Homo sapiens: one gene and its partners. The protein of the gene in region 4 interacts with the protein of the main gene of each other region in a pairwise test. Each region holds a gene or a part of one and is shown on either strand. Other genes may lie near its edges. The genes, in order: SLC31A2, EMP2, TSPAN13, GLP1R, NUCKS1, CFI and CYSTM1.

Evidence for each region.
Region 1: the proteins of GLP1R (region 4) and SLC31A2 interact in a protein complementation assay, tested with the Homo sapiens proteins (one study listed by BioGRID).
Region 2: the proteins of GLP1R (region 4) and EMP2 interact in a protein complementation assay, tested with the Homo sapiens proteins (one study listed by BioGRID).
Region 3: the proteins of GLP1R (region 4) and TSPAN13 interact in a protein complementation assay, tested with the Homo sapiens proteins (one study listed by BioGRID).
Region 5: the proteins of GLP1R (region 4) and NUCKS1 interact in a protein complementation assay, tested with the Homo sapiens proteins (one study listed by BioGRID).
Region 6: the proteins of GLP1R (region 4) and CFI interact in a protein complementation assay, tested with the Homo sapiens proteins (one study listed by BioGRID).
Region 7: the proteins of GLP1R (region 4) and CYSTM1 interact in a protein complementation assay, tested with the Homo sapiens proteins (one study listed by BioGRID).

What each region holds. Positions count from the first base shown.
Region 1 is NC_000009.12:113,153,605-113,157,719, reverse strand, and holds part of SLC31A2 (protein SLC31A2), read right to left. Parts: intron 1-4,115. UniProt on the Homo sapiens protein: Does not function as a copper(1+) importer in vivo. However, in vitro functions as a low-affinity copper(1+) importer.
Region 2 is NC_000016.10:10,570,271-10,574,385, reverse strand, and holds part of EMP2 (epithelial membrane protein 2), read left to right. Parts: intron 1-4,115. UniProt on the Homo sapiens protein: Functions as a key regulator of cell membrane composition by regulating protein surface expression. Also, plays a role in regulation of processes including cell migration, cell proliferation, cell contraction and cell adhesion.
Region 3 is NC_000007.14:16,777,341-16,781,455, reverse strand, and holds part of TSPAN13 (tetraspanin-13), read right to left. Parts: intron 3,659-4,115; coding exon 3,545-3,658; intron 2,454-3,544; coding exon 2,340-2,453; intron 1,109-2,339; exon of another isoform or gene 1-1,108.
Region 4 is NC_000006.12:39,051,273-39,055,387, forward strand, and holds part of GLP1R (glucagon-like peptide 1 receptor precursor), read left to right. Parts: intron 1-4,115.
Region 5 is NC_000001.11:205,718,835-205,722,949, reverse strand, and holds part of NUCKS1 (nuclear ubiquitous casein and cyclin-dependent kinase substrate 1), read left to right. Parts: intron 1-2,296; coding exon 2,297-2,449; intron 2,450-3,273; coding exon 3,274-3,423; intron 3,424-4,115.
Region 6 is NC_000004.12:109,767,132-109,771,246, reverse strand, and holds part of CFI (complement factor I isoform 2 preproprotein), read left to right. Parts: intron 1-4,115. UniProt on the Homo sapiens protein: Trypsin-like serine protease that plays an essential role in regulating the immune response by controlling all complement pathways.
Region 7 is NC_000005.10:140,191,804-140,195,918, forward strand, and holds part of CYSTM1 (cysteine-rich and transmembrane domain-containing protein 1), read left to right. Parts: intron 1-2,642; 5' UTR 2,643-2,662; coding exon 2,663-2,849; intron 2,850-4,115.

The DNA of each region.
Region 1 (4,115 bases), on a different chromosome or scaffold from region 4:
AGAAAGGAATCTGCATCATAGGGGCACAGGGCAGTGGAAGTTACGGTCCTTAATGCTCTCCAGCACCTCCTCTGGGAGCCCAGAAAAATGGGGTCACTGGAAGTGCTGGAAGGGCCATCAGAAGTCATCAGGGCCAACTGAGGCCATAAAGAGCTGAGACTTGCCCAAGAGGGTCAGCAGCAGAGCTATAATTGAGCTGGCCATGCTCCATATGAGAATAGAGGTGTGGGAGTGTCCATCCTCACTGGACCAACTGGCTCGGGATGTGACAGTGTCCTCAGACTATGTGGGGATGTCCCCTCCATGCCTTCCAAGTGCAACTGCCTCTTCTTACCCCCCCGGGACCCTAGCCATTCTGCTGCAGCTCCAGAACAGGCTCCCGTGTGATGGAAGCCTGGAGTCCTCTTTGTCCTGTTCAGTCTAGACAGATCCCACAGTGTTTATCGTGGAGGGGCCCAGAGGCAGCTGTCTTCACTGTACTCCACATCTGCCTACTCATTCACTATACATTTGCTGAGCCCAGTTTGTGTGCCAAGCATTATGGAAGTAGGTTAATGTCTCTGACCTTGGTGAGTTCACAGCCTTACAGGAAAGACTGCAGGTAAAAGCAGTGACCATGCAGTGCCTGTCAGATGCCTTTTCAGAGGGTGCTTGCTCCACCTTGTGTTCAGGGTGGCATCAAGGGCTTTTTCTACATCATCTCATTTCATTGTCACAACAGTCCTCTGTGTGACAGGGACAATTAGGTCCATTTTACAGGAAGGAAAGTTAGGGAAACTAGACTTAGAGAAGTAATTTACTGGTGGTCACAAAGCTAGTAAGTTGGCAGAGCTGGGATTCAAACCTGAGTCTAGCTGGATTCCAAAGCCCTGGACATTCCAGGACACGGTGCTTCCTCCCAATCTCCAAGAAAGGAGGGTACAGTGGGAGCTGGATGGTGAGTTCAGACGCCCACACCAGGCTTAATGACTGTTTGGAAAGATGAGGGCCCAACAGATCTATCAGTTAGTTCACCCTCTCAGGGAAGTGAAGGCCCCCTCTGGTCCCCAGGTAAGCCCTCAGCTAGCACAAGCAGTTCTGCAAACACTGTCAGTGTTACCCAGCTAAGGAGATCCTGGCTGAGTTGTAATCAGCTAGTGGAAGCCTTTGCCTTCTAAGACAATGGCCAAATATTAGAATCCTTGAATCTCAGCACTAGAGGTATCCTCAGAGTTTTTAGTCCCATGGCTTTCAGCTTTCTTCACCAGGGAACACCAGCCAATTAAAATCTTTCTTCTAATTCCATTATGTAAAACACGGGGCTCAGGGTGGAGAGGGGAGAGAAATATGAGCTCTGATGAAACTCAGTTTGAAAAATGCTGATCTGGCCCAACTTGAGTCCCTCTCCACCCCCTCTCATTTCCAGGTGAGGAAAATGAGTATGAAGAGGGAAAAGGATTTGCCGGACCTCCTTATAAGCGGGTTACTCTCAGTTTCTGTTCAAGGGAGGAAGATATGGAGTGAGACTGTGGGTACTTGTGAAGGCTGTGGGGGCCATCAGTTCTTACAGAAAAGGAGTTCCGGTGGAGGCAAACGTCAGTGTGGGGGTGGAAAGGTAGGCAGATTTGATTAGCTGCCATTTTGTCAGGAAGCTGTGCCATGTGGGTGTCCTGTAGCCTCCTGGAAACCAGAGCCACAAACTTCTGCTTGCAGACGACAGCCCTAAACCACAGGCCTTGCATGTTCTAGTCGTCTCCAATCCTCCCCCTCTCAACAGTTAGGACCAAAGGAGATAGTAAAGAATAGTAGTCTGAGTCCAGGATTTGGAACAAAACACATTTGTTAACCAGGGCCTCTCTCTGGCCTCAGTTTCCTCCGAGGGGAGCTGGGGGAAAACTCTGCAAAGCCATCCACACAAAGTGACACACAGTAAGGGCTCAATAACCCCAGTGCCTTTTTTTCCCATACATGTCAAAGCTGGAGGGGTGTTTCTCAGAAGTGTTCCATGGGAGAAGTACAGGATGCTAGGAGGTACTGGGAAAAATGGATTCTATGGTCAAGGGAGTTTGAGAGAGACTGGAATTAGACAAAATAAGGTTTAATAGCTTTCTGCACTGCCAGAAGCCTGTACCCAGAACTCTCTCCTCCCCTTTTTCTCTTGCTGAGTGCCCTGTGGGAAAGAATCTCATAGACTATCCTCTAGGAAGTGCTAATTTAGAGCAACCCTCTTTTTTCATGCTGGGAGGGAAATGACACTGATTATTCTGTGCCAGGCACTCTTCTAAAAATGTTATATGTCTTAACTCACTCAATTTCAAGAGGGGAATTATTATTCTTAGCTCCATTTCATAGATGAGACTACTAAGGCAGACAGAGTTTAAGTAACTTGCCAAGTTGCTAGCTAGAATTTTGCCTGGGTGGGCTGGTTTCAGATTCTGTGCTCCTAACTGCTCTCAATGCAGCTTCTCAGGGCAGCACTGGAAGTCCAAGGGGCAGCTGTGACATGCCCAGGGTCACACTGTGAGTTGGTGGCAGCATCAGGACTGGATCCTGGGTCTTCTTACCAGGCCCTCATTTGGCAAGAGGAAAACAGATGCTACAACACAGAGAACAGCCCACTTTCTTGTGCAATACTAGACAGAGATGAGGGCTGTGCTGTCGTTCGGTTGTTTTAACATTTCAGGAAGATATGCAAACAGCAGAAGAAACTGATATGGCCACTTTGGAACAAAATATGGGAAGAAATTGGGGAGAGGAAGGAATGTATGAGAAAAAGCCTCTGTGCAATTAGGATAGTCATGCTTAGCCCCCGAAGGATGTTCAGCCAATAGCTGGCCCATATTTCCTGAGAAAGATGAAGAGTGCACCTTAAATAAAGGAAACAAACAAGGACCAGTCTGGGGATGGGACAGTAAGACCAGAGCCCAGGGACAACAGCGGACAACAGGATGAAAAGGCAAAGAGGATAGGGTGGGAGGGAGGACACTGGAGCGGATCACAGGTGTGGATGACGATGCTGTTATAGCCGGATCCACAGAGGCAGAGTCAGTCCCGGGTGAATCACTGGGAAACCACAGGCCAATCATGAGCTCCACACTGGCAAGCGGCTTAGTGTAGAGGGACAGCAGCAGCTGCTTAGACTCCAGGGCCTTATTAAAAGTACAGATTCCTGGGCCTCCTCAGGCCCCTAAATCAGAGTCCAGGGTCAGAGCCACAGGAGACAGGGAAGACATAGATTTTAACCAGCCCCCTTCAGGAGATTCTGAGGCTCAGTTCACTTTGTTGCAGTTTGAACAGAGGCAGCAAGGCTAGTGGTTAGGGGCACGGTCTCTAAAGCTGCACTGCCTGGATCTCCCTCCCAGCTCTGCCAGGAACCAGCTGCGTGGCCTTGAGCTGCTGACACGCAGAAAGCCCCCTGTGGACCCAGTCTCCTCGTCTGTAAGATGAGGACAGGACTCTAGGAACCCTTTCCCTTGGTTTGGCCTCACTTTCACAGGCTCCCATCTTGAACTCTATCTACTCTTCCTGAAACCTTGTAAAAGAAAAAAGTGCTAGCCTGGGCAACATGGCAAAACCCTGTCTCTACAAAAAATACAAAAATTAGTTGGGTGTGGTGGCATGTGCCTGTAGTCCCAGCTACTTGGGAGGTGCTGAGGTGGGAGGATCACTTGAGCCCGGGAGGTGGAGGTTGCAGTGAGCCAAGATCATGCCACTGCACTCCAGCCTGAGTAATAGAGTAAGACTCTGTCTCAAAAACAACAACAATAACAGTGAGTGTGCCTCTGTTTCCGGGTTGGATGGGGCACCACATCTATGCATCTCTCAGATTTGGACGCTGCAGCCTGGGGTTTGGTAGAGACCTGGGACTAACCTGGCTGTTCTACTCCCTACACTCAGCTAACATGCCTTTCAGTGCCAAAAGGGGTCTGACTTGTGTCACCAACCCCTGCCTGCGCCTACCCAGGGACTGGGCTCACTGGAGACCGTGGAGCTGCAGGACAGAGAAAGAAATGTGAAAGCATCTGATTGGACAGAACAGCCACACAGCTCTGTGTCTTCTGAGGGACTGCATGTGCCTGTACCACGTTCACCTTCCATTTATTATGTGTCACTCCCTGTGACATCTCCGCAGGTGC
Region 2 (4,115 bases), on a different chromosome or scaffold from region 4:
AGGAGGCAGGCGTGAGGATGCTCACGGAGCATTATTGGAATAGAATATCCAATGATAGGTGAGAAATAGAGAAAAGGAAAAGTGGAAGCAACCTAAATATCCATCAGCCATTTTGCAGAGTATTTTACTGCAGTTAAAAAGAACAAGGGGCCGGGCGCAGTAGCTCACGCCTCTAATCCCAGCACTTTGGGAGGCCAAGGCAGGCAGATCACTTGAGTTCAGGAGTTCAAGATCAGCCTGGCCAATATAGTGAAACCCCATCTCTACCAAAAATACAAAAATTAGTTGGGCTTGGTGGTGTGCACCTGTAATCCCAGCTACTTGGGAGGCTGAGGCACAAGAATCGCTTGAACCCAGGAGATGGGGGTGGCAGTGAGCCGAGATCATGCCACTGCACTCCAGCCTGGGTGACAGAGCAAGACTCTGTCTCAAAAAAAAAAAAAAAAAAAAAAAAAGGTTTATCCATTGTACCCATATGGAAAGAGCTTTATGGCATTACTGAGTTTAAAAAAAGAACAACCAGGAGAAGTATATGTGGAAAAGTGTATTATTCATATAAACATAAACAGAAATTCTTGTTGTATTTTCTGTGGCCTCACATGTTTATACGAGGAACAATGTCTGGAAGGAGACATCGGAGTAGGTCCATGTGGTTGTCTCTGATGGGGTGGTAGGGAAGGAACTGGATTGAAAGGATACAATCTTATCTCAAGCCTTATCTGTAACCAAGAGAGTATCTTCAGGAATTACTGACTTCAATAATAATGCCCTCATTTTCCCTGAGCTTGGTAAGCAATGGAGGTTGTGCAGGTGTGAGGATGGGGAGAGATGATGCCTTTGGCTGTGGGGGGTCAGAGACTCCATGGATGGACCAGTTAGGGACTGTTTTGAAAATCCAGAGACAAGGAAATGATGACCAGTGTGAGCAGGTGTCATCCAGTCCACATGGAGCATCCCCCTTGGAACATCACATTGCAGATGCCAATGAACATAATGTGTTTCCAGTCTGGATGCTGTTCATGGGGGTTAACCGTGGCCAGGTGTGGTGGCTCAGGCCTGTAATTTTAGAATTTTGGGAGGGTTAGGCAGGAGGATTGCTTGAGCACAGGAGTTTTGAGACCAGCCTGGGCAACATAATGAGACCCTGTCTCTACAAAAAAATAGCAAAATTAGCCAGGCATGGTGACACACACCTGTAGCCCCAGCTGCTCTGAAGGCTGAGGTGGGAGGATCGCTTGAGTCCAGGAGTTTGAGGCTGCAGTGAGCTGAGATTGTGCCACTGCACCCTAGCCTGGGTGACAGAGCAAGACCCCATCTCTTAAAATAAAAACAAAAAAAGCCAAAATAAACCCATGCTGACCACTCCCTTTCACTGTGAAGTGAGGGTTCTGTTTCTCTCATAGAACTGATGGAGGAGATGCTTTGGGGTCCCAGTTGTCTTATAGTGGACATTTGTCTTTGGAATGGGGATGGGAGCTTCTCTAACTCATCACAGTTTTCCAGCCTTGAGGTCCTCATCCGTCCCAGAATGAGTGCTTAGTAACTGTGGCATGAATAACATGGTGTCTGCTGAGGGGTGACAGGTGCATTCTGAAGACAGTAGGCAGATGCCAGTGGGATCAGAGAATTGGATTGCGGGGTGCTACAGGTGGGCTGTGTACAGACATGTGGAGGGTCGAGGAGGTGCTATTTGGAAACTAACTCCCAGGCTGTGACATTTATTCTGGAGATAATCCTTAATACCTGAACTTGGGAGTTCTGTGACAGGTCATCTATCCTGATTTATTCCTCACGTGTTCATTCTAATATTTATTGGCCGCTTACTATGTGCCGGGTAGTGAACAAAGATGGACTCGGCCCCTGTAATGGAATTTATCTAGCAGTGGATGGAAGATCATCTGTGGGAGGGTCAAGAGAAACCTAAATCTTTTTTTTTTTTGAGACAGGATCTCGCTGGGTCACCCAGGCTGGAGTGTAGTGGTGCAGTCACAGCTCACGGCAGCCGCGAACACCTGGGCTCAAGTGATCCTCTGTCCTCAGCCTCCTGAGTAGCTGGGACCACAGGTGCACCCAGCTAATTTTTAAATTTTTTGTAGAGACTGGGGTCTTGCTTTGTCACCCAGGCAGCTCTCGAATTCCTGGCCTCAAGTGATCCTCCCTCCTCAGCCTCCCAAAGTGCTGGGATTACAGGCATGAACCACTGTGCCCAGCTGCAACCTAAATCTTTTAAGGGTCTTTGCCCTTGTCTGTCTAGGGTACAGAAGAAAAATGAAAAATTCCCTCTTTCTCCTGCTCCCTCATTGACTTTTTTGAATATATTTAGATCATCAGGTGATATGATGTTTTGAGTAAAATGTGGCCAGGGAGCCTTGAGTCCTCTCTCTTATTAATGTGGAAAGTGCCTTGAAATTCAGATGGATGGTCATGAGCCCTAAAGCCCAGGGCCTAGAGCCCAGGAGAGGCTGACAGCAGTGGACCAGGCTGGTGTTTGAGCCAACAGTGGTGGCCTCTCAGTATACACCACTACCGCCCATCACTGGCTTACAGTGGAAGCCTGGAGCAGTCCTCTGTCTCTTCATGCAAACCTTCAGTCCTTCTGGAATCCATCCCCTCTCTTCATCTCAGTGGCTTCTATCTTGGTCCAGACCGCTGCCATCTTTTGCCTTGACAATTGCACAAGCTCCATGACCTGTATCCCTGCAGCCACTATGGCCTTGCAGTCCGTTTCCCATACGTATCCAGAAGGATCTGATAGAGACACAAAGCTGACCAAGTCACTCTTCCCCTGCCCCACTTAAAATTCTTCAGTAGTTTCAACTGCTCCTAAGCAAAAACCAGGCCTTACATGATCTGACTCAGAGGTCCTTGGCTGACTGACCTTCCGAATCTCCTGGGGAATCTGGATAGAATGCTGATTTCCTGTCCCCACCTGAAAGTAATGATATCAGAATCTCTGGAGGCAGGGGCCAGGGCACAGGGGTTTAAGGTGCCCCCAGTGTGGTTGGTGGTGAGACGTACTGGTCTAACCCCTTCTCTGGACTCATCACTCTCCCCTGTTGCTTTCTCCTCTAGCCCACTCTTTTTTCTTAGTTCCTGCAACTCTTTTTTTTTTTTTTTTTTTTTTTTTTTTGAGACGGAGTCTTGCTCTGTCACCAGGCTGGAGTGCAGTGGCGCGATCTCAGCTCACTGCAGCCGCCGACTCCCTGGTTCAAGCGATTCTCCTGCCTAAGCCTCCAAAGTAGCTGGGACTACAGGTGCACACCACCACGCCCAGCTAATTTTTGTATTTTTAGTAGAGGCAGGGTTTCACCGTGTTGGCCAGGCTGGTTTCTATCTCTTGACCTCATGATCCACCCGCCTCAGCCTCCCAAAGTGCTGGGATTACAGGCATGAGCCACCGGCCCCTGCCAGTTCCTGCAACTCTTAATCCTCTCTCACCACTGCTTCTACCTGCTCTTTCCCTCGCCCTTCTTCTTCTTCCACATTGCCTTCCTCTTTCTGTCCAGCTAATTCTTTATCCTTTAAGACCTTTAAGACTCATACCAGGCCAGGCATGGTGGCTCATGCCTATAATCCCAGCACTTTGGAAGGCCGAGGCAGGAGGATCGCTTCAGGCCAGGAGTTTGAGACCAGCCTGGGCAACATAGTGAGACCCCATCTCTACAAAAAAATAAAATAAAAATTAGCCAGCCAGATGTGGTAGCTCATGCCTGTAATCCCAGCACTTTGGGAGGCCGAGGTGGGTGGATCACTTGAAGTTAGGAGTTCGAGACCAGCCTGGCCAATGTAAAGAAACCCTGTTTCTACTAAAAATACAAAAATTAGCCAGGTGTGGTGGCACATGCCTGTAGTCCCAGCTACTTGGGAGGCTGAGGCAGGAGAATTGCTTGAATTCAAGAGGCAGACGTGACGGTGAGTTGAGATCACGCCACTGCATTCAAGCTCTGGGTGACGGGGCAAGACTCTGTCTCAAAAAATAAAATAAAATAAACATTAGCTGGGTGTGGTGGTGTGCACCTGTCGTCCTAGGTACTCCAGAGGCTAAGGTGGGAGGATTGCTTGAGGCTAGGAATTCAAGGCTACAGTGAGCTGTGATTGCACCACTGCACTCCAGC
Region 3 (4,115 bases), on a different chromosome or scaffold from region 4:
AAGAGGGCACTTTTCAAAGGTAACTTTGATTAGATGTCATCAACTCTGCGGTCTCTAGAACCTACACTCAGTGTGCAGTAGGTCACCAAAATATATTGCTCATAACATGAAAATGTATGTAGAAAAATAAAGTACATGTAGAATATGCAATAAGCTGGTACTCATTTTACTAAATATAGAACGGGCAGAAGGAAATATGCCACAATATAAATGATTGTTTCTGAGTAGGTAATTTTAGTAGCTACGTCTAATTTTTCATCTTCATAATTTTTTGTAGTTTCTCAAGTTACTACAAAGAACATATATTAATCATAGCTTTTTTCAGATTCTAAATCAATGTTTCTCTCATGGTTTAGGTTTGTTTAAAGGTATAATAAATAGTTCAAATCAAATCTTTCTATTTCACCTATGAGAAGAAGTTGTCAGCTAAGTAACTGCATCCCTTCAAATTCTGAGAATCTGTGATTCTGTGAATATTGAGCAAAATATAAACTTAAAAAGTGAGAGCCTACCACTATCACTATCTAAAAAACCAGGTTGCATAAGTTATAAAAATCTCTAGCCAGATTTCCAAAGGAGACAGTATGTAAGATATAAAGCAGGATTCCATGAAAGAACACTTTAGAAATCTAAGACTCATGAGTTCTATTTTTAAAGAACTCCTACTTAAAAAATAGCATAACTGAAGGCAGTGTGATCTGATGACAAGAAAACTGGGCTGCTCAAAAGAACTAAATTCTCAAAATAAATTCCAGATATAAAAAAGAAGCCACGTGGCAAAATTCTGATAACTGCTGACTCTAGCTGATGTGTAGAGAGAAATTACTCCAGTTTTTCTCTATCTGTATTTTTAAGTTTTCATAACAAAAATCTATGGTTTTTAAACAAAAGAAGAGAGAAATGCACAGAATTCTTGTCAAGCTGTATATCATTTTTCTAGAATTAATGTCACAACCAACTCACAAGTCAGATAGCTCTTTTCTGAGAAACAGTGAAATGAAAAAATGGTCAGACTAAAGAGGGAAGTCAGAAGGAACTTTAAAAAAATGAATATTGGGCCAGGTGCAATGACTCACACCTGTAACCCCAGCACTTTGTGAGGTTGAGGTTGGCAGATCACTTGAGGCCAGGGGTTCCAGACCAGCCTGGCCAACATGGTGAAACCCTGTCTCTACTAAAAATACAAAAATTAGCTGGGTGTAGTGGTGCATGCCTGTAACCCCAGCTACTCGGGAGGCTGAGGTGGGAGAATCGCTTGAACCCAAGAGGTGGAGCTTGCAGTAAGCCGAGATTGCACCACTACACTCCAGCCTAAGCAACAGAGCAAGACTCTGTCTCAAAATAAATAAATAAAATAAATAAATAAAAATAAAAAATGAATACTAGGCCAGGCACGGTGGCTCATGCCTGTAATCCCAGCACTTTGGGAGGCCGAGGTGGGCAGATCACGAGGTCAGGAGATCCAGACCGTCCTGGCTAACATGGTGAAACCCCGTCTCTACTAAAAATACAAAAAATTAGCTGGGCGTGGTGGCGGGCGCCTGTAGTCCCAGCTACTCAGGAGGCTGAGACAGGAGAATAGCGTGAACCCGGGAGGCGGAGCTTGCAGTGAGCCAAGATTGTGCCACTGCACTCCAGCCTGGGTGACAGAGCAAGACTCCATCTCAAAAAAAAAAAAAGAATATTAATCTTGGTCTTTTTTTTTCCTATGCTGTTAATGACAGCCAAATGTACATATTTCATTCTTGATGAGAAAAAAAGAAACTGAACTTGAATAAAATATATGATAAATACACATACATAAATATTGTACTATATATTAATTGCATATTATACACAATACATTATACACATATAGACATTATGCATAGGTTTTAGAAGGCTAGGAACAGGGGAATGAAAAATGGTGTAGGAAGGCAATTTTTCAAGATATATATAAAAAGATATATAATCTTTTTATATATGTATGTCTGTGTATTATAGACATTAACATACATATTAAACAATGTGAATGTCCTACCTTTTCCAAATTAAATTTAAAATTATAATTCATCACACAACTGTAGAAATAGAAGAGACCCTAGAGATAATTCAATCTAATCTCACTCATTAGTTCATTAAATTTTACATAAGAAGAGACAGATCAAGCCTTTCACCCGGTCCTAAAGTTGGTGCTATTAATAGACTTGTAAGATCTTCTGATTCTAAACCAAGTTTCCTCTTTTTACAGTGCTAGTTCTCAATGAAAATGCTCACTGATAACAAGAATCAAGGCCCTTTGTCATGCAAAACAGGAATCTCTGTGACAAAGGAGGAAAAATATTGTTATTTGCACATACCTCTGTAAAACTGAAGAACAGGCCAATGCCACCAACAAATCTCAAAACCTCTCCAGCATATTCTCCTATGATTGGAGCACATGGCGAGCACGAGTGGTCACTTTTAACACAGCTCTGCACCAATTAAAGTAAAAAAACCTTTATTTCAAAATACATTTATAAAAAGCCCATAAAAACTGCATACACACAAAATTAGTGTCTAAGAGTATTATATCCAATTTGAGGCCTTGGTTTTTTAGTGTGCAAATCTCTAACACAGCCCCCAAGACTCCCACCCTCCCCTCTCAATGGTGTACACACCCTATACAATCACTGCTCTTGAGTATGCGTGGAACTTGTGAATATGATAGGACAGTCACTTCCATGTTACCTTACATCAGATAAGACTCCATTACGCATTACAAAAGACTCCATCTTAACAGAATGGAGAGATTCTCACAGTGACTTTGATGCTGCCACATTGTGAAAGAGTAACATAGGACCTGAGAGCAGCTTCTAGTTGCAGAGAGAGACCTCCAGCCAACAGGCAGCAAAAAAACAGGGGTGGTCCCACAGCCACAAAGACTGAATTCTTCCAACAACCACTGAGCGTGGGGAGAGGACCCCAAGCTTCAGATGAGGCTGCAGCCTCAGATGACACCTTGATTTCAGCCAGGTGAGCAAAGGACCCAGCCAAGCCTGACCCAGGGAAACTGTGAGATAATAAATGGGTATTTAAAGCCACTAAATGGATATTTAAAGCCAGTGTGTTTCTATTGCTGTGTAATAATGTGTTACGCAGCAACAGAAACATAACACAGACCCCCTACAAGGAGATAATCTCACAAAAGAAGCCTCACTGAGGAAATATTCAGCTTAGGGCTCAGAGATGTGATAACAGGAGTTTCCCCAAAATATGAACACATGAACTGACGTACTATTATTTCTTTCACAACTTGTTCTAGGAAGAGAAGGATGGGAAGAAATTAGGGACAATAAACCATTAGCATCTGTGTCCAATAGGGCCTTGAAATTCTCAACACTCTCTGGAGTGGGTATTTGAGAACAGGCAAATGATATAACAGAGGACATGGAAATATAATGTAAATATATACATAAAATAATCCTGAAAATACAATTCAGCATCAGAAAGTCCATTTCTTCCACATTAATCATTATTTATCTGTAATACATTTCCAAAAACATATATTATACAATGTACTTACAGCCAGACAGGTGTCATTTGGGTTAACACTTCGGAACCCACAGCAGTTTAGATTTCTCTGGATGTCATTTCGAGCACTTGCCGTATTGTTCCAACCAACCTCCAGAAGCTGACCCTAGTAAATGTGTTTAATATATAAAATGTGTCATCCCTGCAGAAAATGTATAAAGCTGGAGCCTGTAACTTTTAGTACTAAGTGTACCTAAAATAATTTTTATTTTAAAAATCCTTAAAACTTTTCAAAGGCTTATTCCTCAGTTTGCAGCAAAAATTAAGGCACTATTTCTATCCCAAGATTGAAAAACTCCTAATTTTTTACATGCATTTAAAAGAATTTACATGCAATTTAAAAGAAGCACTTGGTTCAAAGGCATAATTCTCGGAGTGTTAACAAGGCAAAAGTTCTGTTGCTCCATGACAGAAACCTGGATTTGTCTACGAATTAGAGCTTGAAAACAGTCATTGCTAGACTGGAACCACAAGCATTCTGGAGCAAATGTTTCATTGCATAATAGTGGGAAAAGATTGGGGGAACATCTTTTAGCCATAGCACTTTTTAACCCAGTGAAAGC
Region 4 (4,115 bases):
GGTTATGGAGGGGATTGAGACACTGGCCCCTGAAATGGCAACTTTAGTCACTTTAGTCAAATGGCAGAACTGACCCATTTGTCCTTGGGGATCCAGAAGTGTTTTCCAGGGCTGCAGGATAGTATGAGAGAGGGGCTGTTGGAGACCCTGGGTCTCTGTACTCTAGTGAATGGCAGGTGGAGTCCAGGGCTGAGCCTTGATCAGTGCGGACATTGTTCTAAGCTGGGTTTCCTCCTGGACAGGACCCAGGCTGGGGGCTGGGGCAGGAGCAACCAAGAAACCACATCCTGCCCTCGAATGCCTTGCACCAAGGCAAAACAGGCTTCCTCAGCTGCAGCCTGCCCCTAGGAAAATTCCTATGTGTGTGTGGTGGTGGTGGTGGTTGGAGGAGGGGACAGAGATACAGACAGGTAGTCTGAGACAGACCAGGGGGAGAAGGGAGTAGGCTATATGAACCCCCAGTTCCCAGGTATGTGTGAGTGACCCTGTGTGTAACAGTCTGTGTGGGAATGAGTCCCTGTGTGTGCAACATCTCAGCATGCAACTGTACATCTGACAGTGTCTATGTTTTTGTGACCCTGCATATGATACTGTGTCTGTGGGAGGGTCTGTGTGTGTGTGTGGGGGGGGGGGCATCTTGGTGTGTGAATGGGTGTCAACTAGTGTGTGTCTATATGTGCAGGAGAGATAGTGTGCATGTGAGAGTGTCTGTGTGTTCCTCTGTGTGTGTGTGTTGGGGACAGTGTCTCAGCATGCGACTGTGTACCTGGCAGTCTGTGAGTGATTGTGTGTGGTGGGAGAGAGTCTGTGTCAGTGTCTCAGTATTGGGAATGTGCTTGGGGGCGTGTGTGATGATGCGTGTGACCGTGTGTCCACGTGGGGGTTTTTGTGACTGTAAGAACATGTGTGTAGTATTCCTTTTCCTGTCCTTTCGTTCAGATATCTAAAGCCCTTAGGGAAAAAAAATGGATTGTAAGCTCTGAGCTTTTGAAAAAAAAGAAAGAAAGAAAGAAAAACAAGGGGCGGTCAAAGAGACAGGGGTCTGTTGATGGAAGGGGTGATTTGACTTCTGGGAGGTGACACAGAGGAAGGAGGTTGGGGTCCTGGGAGGAGATGCCAGGGAACCTGAAGGGCTGGACTTAGTTGGGGGACTCCAGAAATTTGAGTTGGAATCCCTCCTTCCTCCTTCTGAGAGGCCTTCCTGCATGTCTCCCACCTCTGTGCCACCTCCTTCCCGTCACCAAAATGGTCCCCAGAGAAAGAAAGAATCTGATACACTTATTCGCACTGAGAAATAGGAGTGCCTTTCAGATTGGCAGCCAGTGTTTGGAGAGGGAGCCCCTTCCTGGGGTGTTGGAAAGCCCACCACCCCGGGGGCTTCCACTCCACCTGCTTCCTTCTCTGCTGTCCTTCCTTCCAACGCTGCCTGCTTGTACAGGGCTTGAGAAGTCACAAAGATTTTCACCTGCTTTATCTTGTTGGATCTGTGCAGTTTGAGAAGAATGATATGCCCATTTTATGGACGGCAGAACTGGCAACTGATGAGGAAACTGAGGTCCTAAAAGATAAATCGTGTCCCACAGTCCTGCATTAACAGAGCTGGGATTTAGACCAAGAACTTATAAATCGCTGTCCAGTGCTCCTTCCTGTAGACCACACCACTCCCTCCTGGTGTCCTCTTTCCTGTCTCCTGCTTCCTCCAAAAACTCCTGAATCTGAGGGATGCCCCTTCCTTCTTGTAACCTCCAACCCAGGTGTCGTCTCCACGTGCCTTCATCCACCTCAGAGAGATCCCATGAAGCCTGTCAAGTCTTGATTCTAGAAACTGCCATCCTGCCCTTCCCATGGCCCTTTAGACCCCCTCTGACCGCTGCTTTGCTCTCCTGGTCAGCTCTGCTGCCTTGTGAGGGACAGGGACATCTGGATTGCATCCTTCCCGCTACCCAGAACCCACAGCCCCACCTTGTCAGGCTTGCAGCAGGGACTTATGTTGTGGGAGGATGAAATGGAGGAGTGGGGGACACTGGTGGGCAGGGCCTTGCCCCTCCTCACAGGGCATGGGGTCCAAAGCTTCCTCCCTGCTTCACTTTGCCATTGGCTGTGGTTACTGCTGGAAGATCTCACAAATTAAGCAGAATGATTGGTCATTGGACATGAACATATATTCATTTCCTCTTTCTGGGAATATGTTGATCCTAGAAGTGAGGAAGGGGTGGGGCCCCAGTCCCCAGGAAGCCTGGTCACTCCCTCCCACTCTGCCCTTTCCACTAAACAGTAGAAATCATGGGGATTGCTGCCATTGACTGAGCCTTCTCCATGTGCCCACCATCCTAAGCATTAACTCAGTCCCCACAGCCATCCCATGGGGGAGGGGCTGCTGTTCCCTTTTGCACAAGTGTAAGCTGAGCCTAAAACATACAACTCTTGCACTCGGTTGCAAACCTAATATCTGGGTGACCCAGGTCCAGGCCCAGATCTGAGCCCAAGGCCAGGGTTGTTCAGCCTCCACTATGTTACCTGGGCACCCAGGCCCTATGGCACTGGGTGGCCCTAGCCTCATTTACTCAGTCTTTCCCCAGACCAGAACCTCCCATCTGTCCCAGGGCCCACCACCACTCTCTCCCTGCCCCAAAAAATCCTCCTGATAACAGTCCACAGCTCTCCTCTGCTCTCCGGAGCACTGATGTCCCCACCTTTGTACCTTTTCCCTGCTGTGCCCTCCTGCTGAAGTGCCCGCCCTCCTCCTTGCTAGCCCAGTCTGCCTCCAACCCCCTTCACCCCAGCCCCACCTCACAGTCCCCAATCCCTCAGGCCTCTTGAGTCTGCACTGAACCCTGCCCCAACCACTCCCTGAACACTTTCACCCACTGCCTTCCCTGTTATGTCACTTGTCCTGTAAAGCATTGACCCCCGAGTAGCCTGAAGACTCTCTCAGGCAGGGCTCCTGCAGTCACCTTTATACTCCCTGCATTCCCCTCCACCCACGACCACCCAGAACCTGGCACAGTTATGGTTTCTGTAAATACGAGGCGTGGGAGAGGCCAGAAGTCTGGGTAGTTTGCACTGTGTGTGCCTGCAGGGGTGGGATGAAGGCTCGAAGGTATTTAGAAGCCCTGATCTGGTGTAGGGAGGGGACAAGATACTCTTACTGTCAGGAATCCCTCACCTAAGGGGGAGCCACAGCCCCATCCTCAGGAAGCTCCAGTCTGAGGGGAGACACAGCCCCGTCCTCAGGGAGCCCCAGTCTGAATATAGTTTTATGTCCACAGCTCTGCTCAGAGTAGGTGACAGCGCTGCCCTGGGGTGCAGGAGGCCAGATTGGCCTTCATGGCGCTGTCGTTAACCCCTCCCCCCGCCTCTGGGAAGAACTGGCTTCCATACCTCTCTGCCTGCCCCAGACACACCTTCTGCCCCAGTTCCCAGCAGTGACCTTGTGTGTGGTCTGCTTTCATTCTAGAAACAGAAACCAAGGGGGATTTCTCCGTCTCTCTGCCCTCCACCCCCAGCAGCTGCTGCATTTAGGGGCAGCATGGAAGAGCCCTTTACCCGGAGAAGAGGGAAGAAGTGAGAAGGGAAACGGGGCGGTGGGGGTTGATCCACCAGGACTTGCTCTGATGAAAACTGTGCCACCTCCTCAGCTGTGGCTAATATCATGGACAACACCTTTGCAGCTGTTATGTTTGATTTCTTGTTCTTTTTTTCCCCAAGCAAATACAGTTGACCTTTGCCCTCAGAAGAGCTCTGTCCTTCAGGGTAGCCCCTGCCGCCTTGGCACACTTATGCCAAGGATGCTGCTGGGGCTTAAAGTGAGCTGGGCCCTTCCATGGGGCCTCCGAGGCAGCAAGGGGTGAGCAAGGCAACCCAAGTCTCTCAGGGAGGTGTGTGATAAGCCAGCTAGAACCCGAGACTGGATCCAGCATGTGCCCAGCACGCTACAAGGCAAGGGGGCAAGCTTCTAAAAAGAAGCTATTTTAATTTCAGCACACGTGGACATTTTTGTGATTTCAAAAAGCAAAATGTTGTTTTAAATTATGTATGGGTCCTACATTTTATACATGGGGCTCTTGGGTCATTTCAGCATCTGCAGCCTCTGAAGGACGAATATTTATAATTTT
Region 5 (4,115 bases), on a different chromosome or scaffold from region 4:
TTCTACCAAGTGGGTTTAGTTTTGGGTCGGCCATGTCAGCTTTATTCTGTTTGTCTCTAGATGAGATTTTTAAAAGTGAAAGAGATGACTTGAACACTGACTATGGCAAGGCTCATGGGACTAGAAGTGTTTTCAGAAAAGGGCTGTAGGTAGAGACTAAGGCAAATATGGTTTAGTCTAGAGGCAGTAGGCTGGCAGCCTACCCTTTAACCAAATTTATTCACAAACACAACTGTGTGTTAAAAAAATTTTTTTTAGGCTGAGCATGGTGGCTCCCACCCGCCATCCCAGCACTTTGGGAGGCCAAGGTGGGTGGATCACCTGAGGTCAAGGGTTCAAGACCAGCCTGGCCAACATGGCAAAACCCTGTCTCTATCAAAAATACAAAAATTTGGCTGAGCCCGGTGGCTCATGCCTGTAATCCCAGCACTTTGGGAGGCCAAGGCAGGTGGATCACCTGAGGTCAGGAGTTCGAGACCAGCCTGGCCAACATGGCAAAACTCCTTCTCTACTAAAAATAAAAAAATTAGCCGGGTGTGGTGGTGGGTGCCTGTAATCCCAGCTACTCGGGAGGCCGAGGCAGGAGAATCACTTGAACCTGGGAGGCAGAGGTTGCAGTGAGCTGAGATCCCACTGTTGTACTCCAGCCTAAGCAAGAAGAGCAAAACTCCATCTCAAAAAACAAACAAGCAAACAACAACAAGAAATTAGCCGGGCATGGCTGCATGTGCCTGGAGTCCTAGCTACTCGGGAGGATGAGACAGGAGAATAGCTTGAACCCAGGAGGCACAGGCTGCAATGAGCCAAGATTGCACCACTGCACTCCAATCTGGGCGACAGAGTGAGACTCCAAATTAAAAAAAAAAAAATTTTTTTTTCATTAATAGACTCTAAGAATATGTGAAAGTAAATTTTTTATAGGCTTCTCCAAATGTCTTTCACTAATTAATCTAAATATGTATTTTAAAGATTTTCCAGCTGGGCGCAGTGGCTCACGCCTGTAATTCCAGCACTTTGGGAGGCCAAGGAGGGTGGATCACCTGAGGTCGGGAGTTCGAGACCAGCCTGACCAACATGGTGAAACCCTGTCTCTACTAAAAATACAAAATTAGCCAGGAGTGGTGGTGCGCACCTGTAATCCCAGCTACTCGGGAGGGTGAGGCAGGAGAATCGCTTGAACCTGGGAGGTGAGGTTGCAGTGAGGCGAGATTGCGCTATATTGCACTCCAGCCTGGGCAACAAGAGCAAAACTCCATCTCAAAAAAAAAAAAAAGGTTTTCCACAATCCCCTCTAAATTGAAATGGTCACAAGCCATTCATTGTAAAGGGTAACAGTTTGACATTATTTTAGGGTTTTCGTGTTTTATGTCTTAGAATAAAGATTATTGGAAGACATTCTTTCTCTCTCATACTATGTTAAGATATTTTTCTAACTTTAGCTTTCAAAAACAGTGAACATAGATTTGAATGTAATTGAGAATTGTAGAGCAAAGCAATGATGTAACTTTAAAGTATAGGAGTCATGTATTCACGCTTTAATTCAGCTTGTCTACTGCTTAAAATTACATTCCCTTGTTACTTTATATGTAATAGTGGTTACATAGTCTTGTCCAAGTTCATTCTTTGTGAATTTAGGTCCCCTTTATACATTTTGTAGAATTTTTTTTTTTTTTATGTTGTGGGATACATGTGCAGGATGTGCAGGTTTGTTACATACGTAAATGTGTGCCATGGTGATTTGCTGCACCCATCAACCCATCACCTAGGTATTAAGCCCAGCATGCATTAGCTAATTTTTAATGCTCTCCCTCTCCATCCCCCCACCCTGCCCCCTCCCTCGCCACAGGCCCCAGTGTGTGTTGTTCCCCTCCCTGTGTCCATGTGTTCTCATTGTTCAGCTCCCACTTATAAGCGAGAACATGGCAGTGTTTGGTCTTTTGTGCCTGCATTAGTTTGCTGAGGATAATGGCCTCCAGCTCCATCCATGTCCCTGCAAAGAGCATGATCTCCTTCCCTTTTTATGGCTGCATAGTATTCCATGGTGTGTATGTACCACATTTTCTTTATCCAGTCTATCATTGATGGGCATTTGAGTTGATTCCATCATTTTGCAGAAATGTTGAAGGATAGAATTTGCCCTTTTACAATGAAATAAAGCTGCAGATTATATCCTATATTGGCCACTGTGTTGGCCTTTTCAGTCAGTTATGTTTTCAGTCAATTATTAATCTTTTGCACTATCTTGTCAAATATAAAATTCTTTAATCATTATATCATGGTAATTCTGATATTGCAGAGGATAGTGAAGATGAAAAAGAAGATCATAAAAATGTGCGCCAACAACGGCAGGCGGCATCTAAAGCAGCTTCTAAACAGAGAGAGATGCTCATGGAAGATGTGGGCAGTGAGGAAGAACAAGAAGAGGAGGATGAGGCACCATTCCAGGAGAGTATGTGAAGTTGTTTTGTGTACTTTGGTTGTTTGGTCATAATTGTAGTTTGTGACCTTGGTTACTTTGGCATTTTCTAGGATGCTAAATGTTACAACCAGTCCCTTAAATTGGGTAGATACTCCGTGTTAAAAGAGATGACTGTATTGGTTCCTGTTAATATTTTTAAAGGTTCAGAGATTCTCACGATTGCCCACCATTTGTAATGGTTGCACCCTTTATTTAATGATGTCTGTGTTCAAACACTGAATGAACAATTTGCTTAAGTAACAGTCACATTAGGCATTGTGATTGAGATTTGTATTTTGCCCTGGTGGAGGAGGTTGTAGACCTCTTTTCACAGAAAAAAACATGTTAATAATAAAATTTAGGTGTTTCACAGGTTATTCAGATTAGTTAATCCTATGTATTTTTGTTTTGTGTTTGGTTTTCTTGTTTCACTTATTCATAATTGGACCAAAAAGGCCCTGTCAGTTCAGTTTTGTTTCCCTGGTCTCAACCAGTACTACTTGGAAGTGATGGAACTACCAAAAGTTATTTGATAGTTTCAGTTTTTATTCAGATTAACTCTTACCCTTCCTGTTTTCAATCTACTTTTCAAACACATCACTCATGTAACTCTCTCATGTAAGGTGCATGCAAAATCCATTTGACAAATGAGGCCAGTGATGACTCCAGTCAAATTGGTAGTACAGCTCCAAATAGAATCCAAGGGTGTTTGACTCCCAAATCCCATCCTCTAGTCATTCTTAGCACTCTCTTCCTTTTTTACTTGGAAGGATGTGTACATTAAGTTAGATGTTGAAATTCTTCTTTCTTCTCAGAAGATTCCGGCAGCGATGAAGATTTCCTAATGGAAGATGATGACGATAGTGACTATGGCAGTTCGAAAAAGAAAAACAAAAAGATGGTTAAGAAGTCCAAACCTGAAAGAAAAGAAAAGAAAATGCCCAAACCCAGACTAAAGGCTACAGGTAATTTCTGCAGAAGTGAAATTAAATTTACTGCTTTAAAAATTTTGAGAATCATTATTTTCAATACAGAAATTCCTCATTAGGATTTGGCATTGGCCTGATGTTTAGCAGGAATACAAGAAATCTAAAAGGGTCTTGTATTCTGCAACTGGAAGTATCTCTTATTAATAAAGACACTAGCCTGTTTAAGAGTCTAGTGGGCTTAGCCATGTTCTTCAACTACTGCCAGTACTTGAGCAAGATTTCAGAATGATCTATTTGTTTCAGACACAGTGGTAGAAACACTGTGTCATCATAGTTGTTACTGCTCTTTTTTCCTCACTGGTATCACAGTCTCAGCAGCCAGCAAAGACTTAATTGTGAAAATGCACAAACCTAGAGTAATACGTTTAAGTTCCACGTTCTGAACTCTACCCCATCCTCTGTGCTATCAGAATAAAACCACACTTGATGACATGAGTTGATTTTTTTCTGAGCCCTAATGGTTTCTCCTCGTTGGAGCTAGTTTGTTAACTAAATCAGAAATCAATTTGCTTTTTGTGTAGGTGGTTTTATTCTGTTAGGTAGAACTAGTCATTGTTAAACTTCTGTTTATCACTTCCTACTGTTAGGAATGATGGAACTATCAAATGTTATTTGATGGCTTTAGTTTCTGATCAGATTAATTCTTTTCCTTCCGTCTTTTTGACCTG
Region 6 (4,115 bases), on a different chromosome or scaffold from region 4:
TTATTTTTTTTGTATTTTGAGTAGAGTTGGGGTTTCACCATGCTGGCCTGGCTGGTCTCGAACTCCTGACCTCATGATCCGCTGGCCTCAGCCTCCCAAAGTGCTGGGATTACAGGAATGAGCCACTGCGCCTGGCCCTAATCTTCTACTTCCCTACTGAAAGCATAAGGACATCAGATCTTACTTAAAATGAAAAGCACTCCTATCACCCGTCTCCCACCCCTAACTCTCTCTCCAGGGGCAAGCACTTTCAAATCTTTGCTGTTTCTTCTGCTGTTTACAACAGATTCCTCAGTAACATGTTCATACAACCATCTCTTTCAACCAGTTCCCTGTTTGTTAGCCACTCCTTCTTCAGAGGTACTAGGTCCCCCAGTTCCTAAGCTTTTCTGGGGTTCTGTGGGGCTTAGCTTTCAGTTCTCCTTGATCTGCTAAATCCATTAGCACTAGCCCATCTGTTTTCCAGCTTCCAACATTTTGATATCTTATATCCTGCAGTCCTCTCCCCACTCTCTTTGACCTTATGGTTTATGCCCTTTAAAAAAATTCCTGTATTCTCAATTTAACAGAGCTTGGAGAGGAGACAGAGACTTTCTTTTTTTTTTTTTTTTTTCTGGTCTGTGTTCATATTTTCATGTCTAAATGGCAAAACCAGTAAAGCGGTTTCTTTTTTTTTCTTTTTTTTTTTTTAGAGATGGAGTCTCGCTCTGTCATCCAGGTTGGAGTGCAGTGGTGCGGTCTCCGCTCACTGCAAACTCCACCTCCCGGGTTCAAGTGATTCTCCTACCTCAGCCTCCTGAGGAGCTGGGATTACAGGTGCCATCATGCCTGGCTAATTTTTGTATTTTTAGTAGAGATGGGGTTTTGCCATGTTAGCCAGGTTGGTCTCAAACTCCCGACCTCAACTGATCCTCCCACCTCAGCCTCCCAAAGTGCTGGGATTACAGGCGTGAGCCACTGTGCCTAGTCAAAACCAGTCAAGCTTCTACTTCCACTTCCTCACCTCCCATTCCAGCCTCAACTCACCAATGTGTGGTTTCCCATTTCCTTAAAGTTTCAGTTTAATTACATGCCACTTAGCATAAGTGACTCCATTTTGGTTTGGTCTTTGGGGCTTGGTGCAGGAGTACAGTTTAAAAAAATGGCTTCCCGTAATTTTATGTAACAGAGTGAGGTAGCGTTTTCCCTTCCATCTCCCACCTGCACCCCAGGCAAAGAGGATGGAAGGTGCTGCCGCTTCTCTTCATTGTGAAAGGGCTTCCCACAGGTTCCCTTGGAGTGCTTGACATGTGTTCCCTGAAGTCTGAGGAGAAAAAAGAACTAGTACTTGACCCATACCTGAAAGGAATAAGGACCCAAGGCTGGAGGTGCCTGGTGGCAGAGATAAAAGAGGTGGCTGTGTTGGAGCAAGCCCTGTTTCAATGGTAGGCAGCAGGGCAGGCAACAGACAGGTGTGGGTCCTCAGGAGGGAAACAGGACTCCTGCCCAAGAGGCTCCCTGCCAAAGGTAAGCAACCTCAGCAGAAACGGGCTAGTACTGTTGGATACTGGAGCTGAGAAGACATGGACCATGAGCAGCCAGCTGGAGGAGAGGTACTGCCAGCATTGAGTGAATTGACATCAAATGTCCCCAGTAGTGCAATCTCTAGAGAACCTCATAGTACCCCGCATGAGAGAGTTGGCTCTAACCCCCACCTTGCCAAGGCTAGTTCTCAGCCGTAAGAATCAGGTGAGACCCGGCTGCTGTCCCTCTCTTCCTCTCCTGAGAGGTGGAAAGCATGACCTGAAAGCTGTGGAATGGAGGAGAGCTCAGAAAGGACCCATCACACACCCTGGAAGCAAGTCTGAGCTGAGAGGAAGGAGAGGCTTTCATCTGACATGAAGGTCAGAGCTTCAGTGGTTCCACAGCACTAGACATTGTCATTGCTATTTAGTGACTATTCCTGGAACTAAACATCCTTTAATTTTTTGTTTTTGTTTAAATCTAAGAGTGACTGAGAAAGTTATGACACTTGCCAAAGTTTCTATCCAAAGATCAAGGAGGAATGAGATTTCAGAAATGATTTAAAGGAATAAAGGTAGAAAAAAATCAAGTTGCTTGGATTTCTCATCCAATGAGAGCATCATTGTTTCAATATAAAGGTGATAAATAAAACCTGCTGTCAGGACACTTGCAAGCTGGTCAGTGGAAGATACAGGAGAGAAATTATTACAAAAATTCCAACTCTAATAAGTGCCAAAAAGAGATACGTGGAACCATGAAAAGTGCGTAACTGGCATATTTCATTCTAGATCACTGTGTCAAAAGCCAGTTTCCAGAATGACCAATTTGTCATTTGTGTGTGTGTGTGTGTAAAGCTATTTGTACAGTTTATTGAAAAGCAAATTATGGAGAATGACTTTGACAATCCTTGCAAGGTTTTGCATGGTTTTAATTAGCTTATTTGCCTTCTTAACGGCATTTAAAGACTATGATTTTTGTCTGCCCCAGCTTGATGCTTCACAGCTACAGGGCACTGAGGAAGGAGCGGGGCTCACTGCGGGCAGCAGGGGAGACTAGAGGACAGGAGGCGCATCCTCAGGAGGAAGCTCTGGGGGACAGGGAGACAGCATTGGCTTTTCTTCGCAGATTGGCTTTTGGCCCAATTGGCCTGTTCCCAGCCCTCATATTATTTCTACTGGAGTCCTGCAGGGTAATAATAGCTCTCATTAATTTTATGCCTAGTACCTGTCAACCATTACAAACATAGTATTTCTAATCTTGCAAAATAGGAGATATTATCTCATTTTACGATGAGGAAATTCACGTTTCAGGAGGGTCACTTGCCCTGCATCATGTAACAGTAAGTGCCAAAACTGGGTCTAGAAGCCAGGTTTGTCTGATTCTTTTTTTCTTTTTTTTTTTTTTTTTTTAGGATTTCTTCATGGTCAAGATGGCAGTCATACCATTCTTTTTTTTTTTTTTTTTTGTACTTTAAGTTTTAGGTGCATGTGCACAATGTGCAGGTTAGTTACATATGCATACACGTGCCATGTTGGTGTGCTGCACCCAGTAACTCGTCATTTAACATTAGGTATATCTCCAAATGCTATCCTTCCCCCCTCCCCCCACCCCACAACAGGCCCCAGTGTGTGATGTTCCCCTTCCTGTGTCCATGTGTTCTCATTGTTCAATTCCCACCTATGAGTGAGACGATGTGGTGTTTGGTTTTTTGTCCTTGCAATAGTTTGCTGAGAATGATGGTTTCCAGCTTCATCCATGTCCCTACAAAGGACATGAACTCATCATTTTTTATGGCTGCATAGTATTCCATGGTGTATATATGCCACATTTTCTTAATCTGGTCTATCATTGATGGACATTTGGGTTGGTTCCAAGTCTTTGCTATTGTGAATAGTGCCGCAATAAACATACGTGTGCATGTGTCTTTATAGCAGCATGATTTATAATCCTTTGGGTATATGCCCAGTAATGGGATGGCTGGGTCAAATGGTATTTCTAGTTCTAGATCCCTGAGGAATCGCCACACTGACTTCCACAATGGTTGAACTAGTTTACAGTCCCACCAACAGTGTAAAAGTGTTCCTATTGCTCCACATCCTCTCCAGCACCTGTTATTTCCCGACTTTTTAATGATCGCCATTCTAACTGGTGTGAGATGGTATCTCATTGTGGTTTTGATTTGCATTTCTCTGATGGCCAGTGATGATGAGCATTTTTTCATGTGTCTTTTGGCTGCATAAATGTCTTCTTTTGAGAAATGTCTGTTCATATCCTTTGCCCACTTTTTGATGGGGTTGTTTGTTTTTTTCTTGTAAATTTGTTTGAGTTCATTGTAGATTCTGGATATTAGCCCTTTGTCAGATGAGTAGATTGCAAAAATTTTCTCCCATTCTGTGGGTTGCCTATTCACTCTGATGGTGGTTTCTTTTGCTGTGCAGAAGCTCTTTAGTTTAATTAGATCCCATTTGTCAATTTTGGCTTTTGTTGCCATTGCTTTTGGTATTTTAGACATGAAGTCCTTGCCCATGCCTATGTCCTGAATGGTATTGCCTAGGTTTTCTTCTAGGGTTTTTATGGTTTTAGGTCTAACATGTAAGTCTTTAATCCATCTT
Region 7 (4,115 bases), on a different chromosome or scaffold from region 4:
AATGGAATGGCCATATGGGGATTAATGAGACTGATTTCTGTGTTAACCAGGGCTCACTAGGCTTTCTACAGCCTTCCTGGTAGGAGAGAGGAAATAAAATGCATTTGCTTTTGTCCAAATTCATATGATAATTGTAGTGTTAATCACCATGAGCCTTTGCATTAGGGTTCCTAGGTCAGGGTGTGTTGCCAGTTGCAGACCAGAGCGCAGAGAAGGGAAAGAACTCTACTTTTTTCCTGAGTCCCTTTCAGGCCCTGGAAAAATAAGATGGTGTCAAAAATGGGAGGCAATACAGATGTGGTTGAAATAGAGACCCTCAAGCCATTTGATCCCATAACATAGAGTTTCAATTTATAATCAACTCCTTCAAATGACACTCTCTTGATCAGCACCTCCTTCTACTAGGTTTAAGCGCCTACTCCTACCCAGCAGTCTGTTTACCACATTTTCTAAAAATCATTTTCCTTATGTTTGTTTCAGCCAGTTGCACAAGGGTAGGGTTTGAGGCATATTGATCTCTATACCCCACTACTTAGCCCAGTGTCAAGAAAGCACTTAATAAATGTATGTTTGTGAATGTCACCCAGAAGGGTTCATTACCTTACCTTACCATTGGTTTCCAGGACTGGAAATTCGATAGAGGTAGTTTAGGTTAGGCCAGGCTTTAGTCTTTGATTTAGGAGCTGTTATAAAGTCATCTGGAATCCCATTTCTTTCCTTTTTTCTGCTCTGCCTTTCTGAATGGCCCACTTAATCTTAAAACTGGCTCCTTCTCAGGGCTGCAGATTGGCTGTCAGCAATTTTGTAGGCCAATCTTTCCTAGACTTTGTGTATACCTTTGTACAGGGGAAGGGAAGGTTCGGTGGGAGTGTGTTAAGAGAGTCTGAGCTTTTTACTGATTGAACCACTTCAGAACCAGTCCCAGTGGCCAGGGAGTGCCATTTGCATCTGGGTAAAGTCCTGAATTCCTTGAATCAATCATGATAAAAAAGTGGAGAGAGTGACCCCGATTGGCTTAGATAGACTGGGTTCACCCTGGAGCTGGATGGGATGAGCTTTCCCTGAAGCACATGAACTACAGGAAGAATGAGCAGAGATCTACCTGGAAACCTGACTCCTGTTAGGAAGGGAGAATATGGATGTTGTGTGGGCAACCATCAAAGTCCACTGCTACTGTAATCCAGATTTTCTAGGGAACCTAGACTATTTATAACTATTCTGTCCTTTATATAATAAAGTCACTTAGGAATTTGTTGATTGCCTGTTATGGAAAAGAATTAATAGTGAAATTATTACATTTTGAATCTGAGACTCTTCCCTACTATTTGGTTGGGGATAGAAGACACTCAAATAGGTAAAAAGTTAACTATTGATGTAAGATATGGGTAACAGTACAAGGCAGCAGTATGACAGATGATATGTTAAGTGAGTCATCCTTAGAGTTTATACTTTGCATTCCCCAGTAATTGTTTGTTTGTTTGTTTGTTTGTTTGTTTTTGAGACGGAGTCTCACTTTGTTGCCCAGGCTGGAGTGCAGTGGCACGATCTCAGCTCATTGCAACCTCTACCTCCCAAGTTCAAGCGATTCTCCTGCCTCAGCCTCCTGAGTAGCGGGACTACAAGCACATGCCACCATGCCCGGCTAATTTTTTGTATTTTTAGTAGAGACGGGGTTTCACCATGTTAGCCAGGATGGTCTCAATCTCAACGTGATCCGCCCGCCTCGGCCTCCCAAAGTGCTGGGATTACAGGCATGAGCCACCACACCTGGCCATTTGTTTGTTTTTAATCTGAAAGTCACCGTGCCAGGCACTGTGGAACTTAAAGAGATAATAGAAACAAGACGCTGGCCCTGAAAACTTCAAGCCCAATCAAGAGAATGATTAACAGGCTTGGGGGCTGGGAAGCGTGGCTTCCCTCACAGAAGCAAACCATGGAGGACAGGGTCCTGTAAACACAAATAAATGTTCCTGGTGAGCCCTCCAGAGTCTCAGGGGCCTGGATGGGCAGAGGAGACGCTTGGCATTCTCTATAAACAGCGCTGTCCAACTGCTCAGAGCAGCGGGTCTGGGGAGAACAACCAGATCACCCCAATCCCCAGAGCAATGGTGATGGTTACAAACTTTGGTTGGTCATTGCTGCCAGTGCTGCTCGTTAGAAGGCCCCACTGTGGCCCAGCCCTGTTGATTGGAGGGTTTCTAGTAGTGGATCAGCGTCCACTGATGAGACTCATAGTGCTGTTAGAACACTTTCTTAAAGCTATCCAATCACATTTATGGACACTTCAGAGGAATTAAAAAACAAAATATCTTGCTATTCATTTAACACATTTATTTAGGGGACTGCCTTGTACCAGGCACTCTGCAGTGCTCTAGGGACATGGTGGTGATCCAAAACTTACTTGATATCTACTGTCACAGCCTACAGTCTAGTGGAGGAAATAGACAAAAGGCAAATAAATATATAAGATAATTGCCAATTATAGTGATGGTGAGAAGGAAACAAAATGGGCAGAGCTAGAGATTTGCACAAGGCTTGATACACCTTGAAGGTATTTTGTAAATGATCTTATGGGTTAGGATTTTATTCCTGATGATTTCCACAGTTAAATGCAAATAATTTTCATTCTTTTTGTCTCTTAGGTGCACTTTACAGGTCCCCGATGAACCAAGAGAACCCTCCACCATATCCAGGCCCTGGTCCAACGGCCCCATACCCACCTTATCCACCACAACCAATGGGTCCAGGACCTATGGGGGGACCCTACCCACCTCCTCAAGGGTACCCCTACCAAGGATACCCACAGTACGGCTGGCAGGGTGGACCTCAGGAGCCTCCTAAAACCACAGGTGTGTGTCTCTGAATATGTGGGTGTGCAGTCCCGTGTCACTAAAGGAAATGTTTGCATGTTTTCTTTGGCAGAGAAGAAATTCTTTCCAGCCTTTGCAACTTGTGCTTGATGTCCCCAAAGCTTGATGATGGCTTAGGGTGGATTCTCACTCCTGAGAAGAGGCCCAAGTCAGCTCTGCCTGCTACATTCACACCTCTTGTCCCCTCTGGGGCTGATGACTTCCTGGCCAACGTGTTTTCTGAGGGCTACCCTCTAGAGCACTTGGGGGTGGGGAAGGAATTAGCAGTTGAGTCTTTGCTCTGTAGCCAGCTTTGTATTTTAGGTTTAGTAATTAGCCTCTTGAGTTTATTTTATCTGTCAGCTTGTTGACCCTCAAGTCATCCTCTTGCCCCTGCTACTGGGGTTTTTCTTTTTTTTCTTACTAAATGTTTTCATAATTCTATTTAACCTGCCAGTTGAGTTTTCAGGAGGCTCTTGAGTCCTTCTTGTGTGCTATAGAACAGTGTTACTCAAAGTTCAGTCTGTAGACAAATGCCAGTCAATGAACAGTGAACAGTTATGGACTATATTATATGTACAGAAAGTGAGAGTAAACATTTAGAAACTTTTAGAGCAATTTGGTTTTGCTGTGACATCCAAGTATGTAATCTTGCATTTTACAGAAAGTATCAGTCTGAAAGATTAAAAGTAAAACATCTTGAGGAGCACTGTGCTAGATGTCTTGGTCACTATTTTGTAGCCCTTTGGTTGGCAGAATAGCTGCTCTCTTAATTAGCCCTTTCAGCTTTTTTTTTTTTTTTTTTTTGAGACGGAGTCTCACTCTGTTGCCCAGGCTGAAGTGCAGTGGCGCGATCTCGGCTCACTGCAAGCTCCGCCTCCTGGGTTCACGCCGTTCTCCTGCCTCAGCCTCCTGAGTAACTAGGACTACAGGCGCCTGCCACCACGCCCGGCTAATTTTTTGTATTTTTAGCAGAGACTGTGTTAGCCAGGATGGTCTCAATCTCCTGACCTCGTGATCCGCCCCCCTTGGCCTTCCAAAGTGCTGGGATTACAGGCGTGAGCCACTGTGCCTGGCCAAGATAGCTAATTCTTAAAAAGTGCTTATTATGGCCAGGCACAGTGGCTCATGCCTGTAATCCCAGCACTTTGGGAGGCCAAGGCGGGCAGATCACCTGAGGTCAGGAGTTCAAGACCAGCCTGGCCAACATGGTGAAACCCCGTCTCTACTAAAAATACAAAAACTAGCCAGGCGTGGTGGTACGCG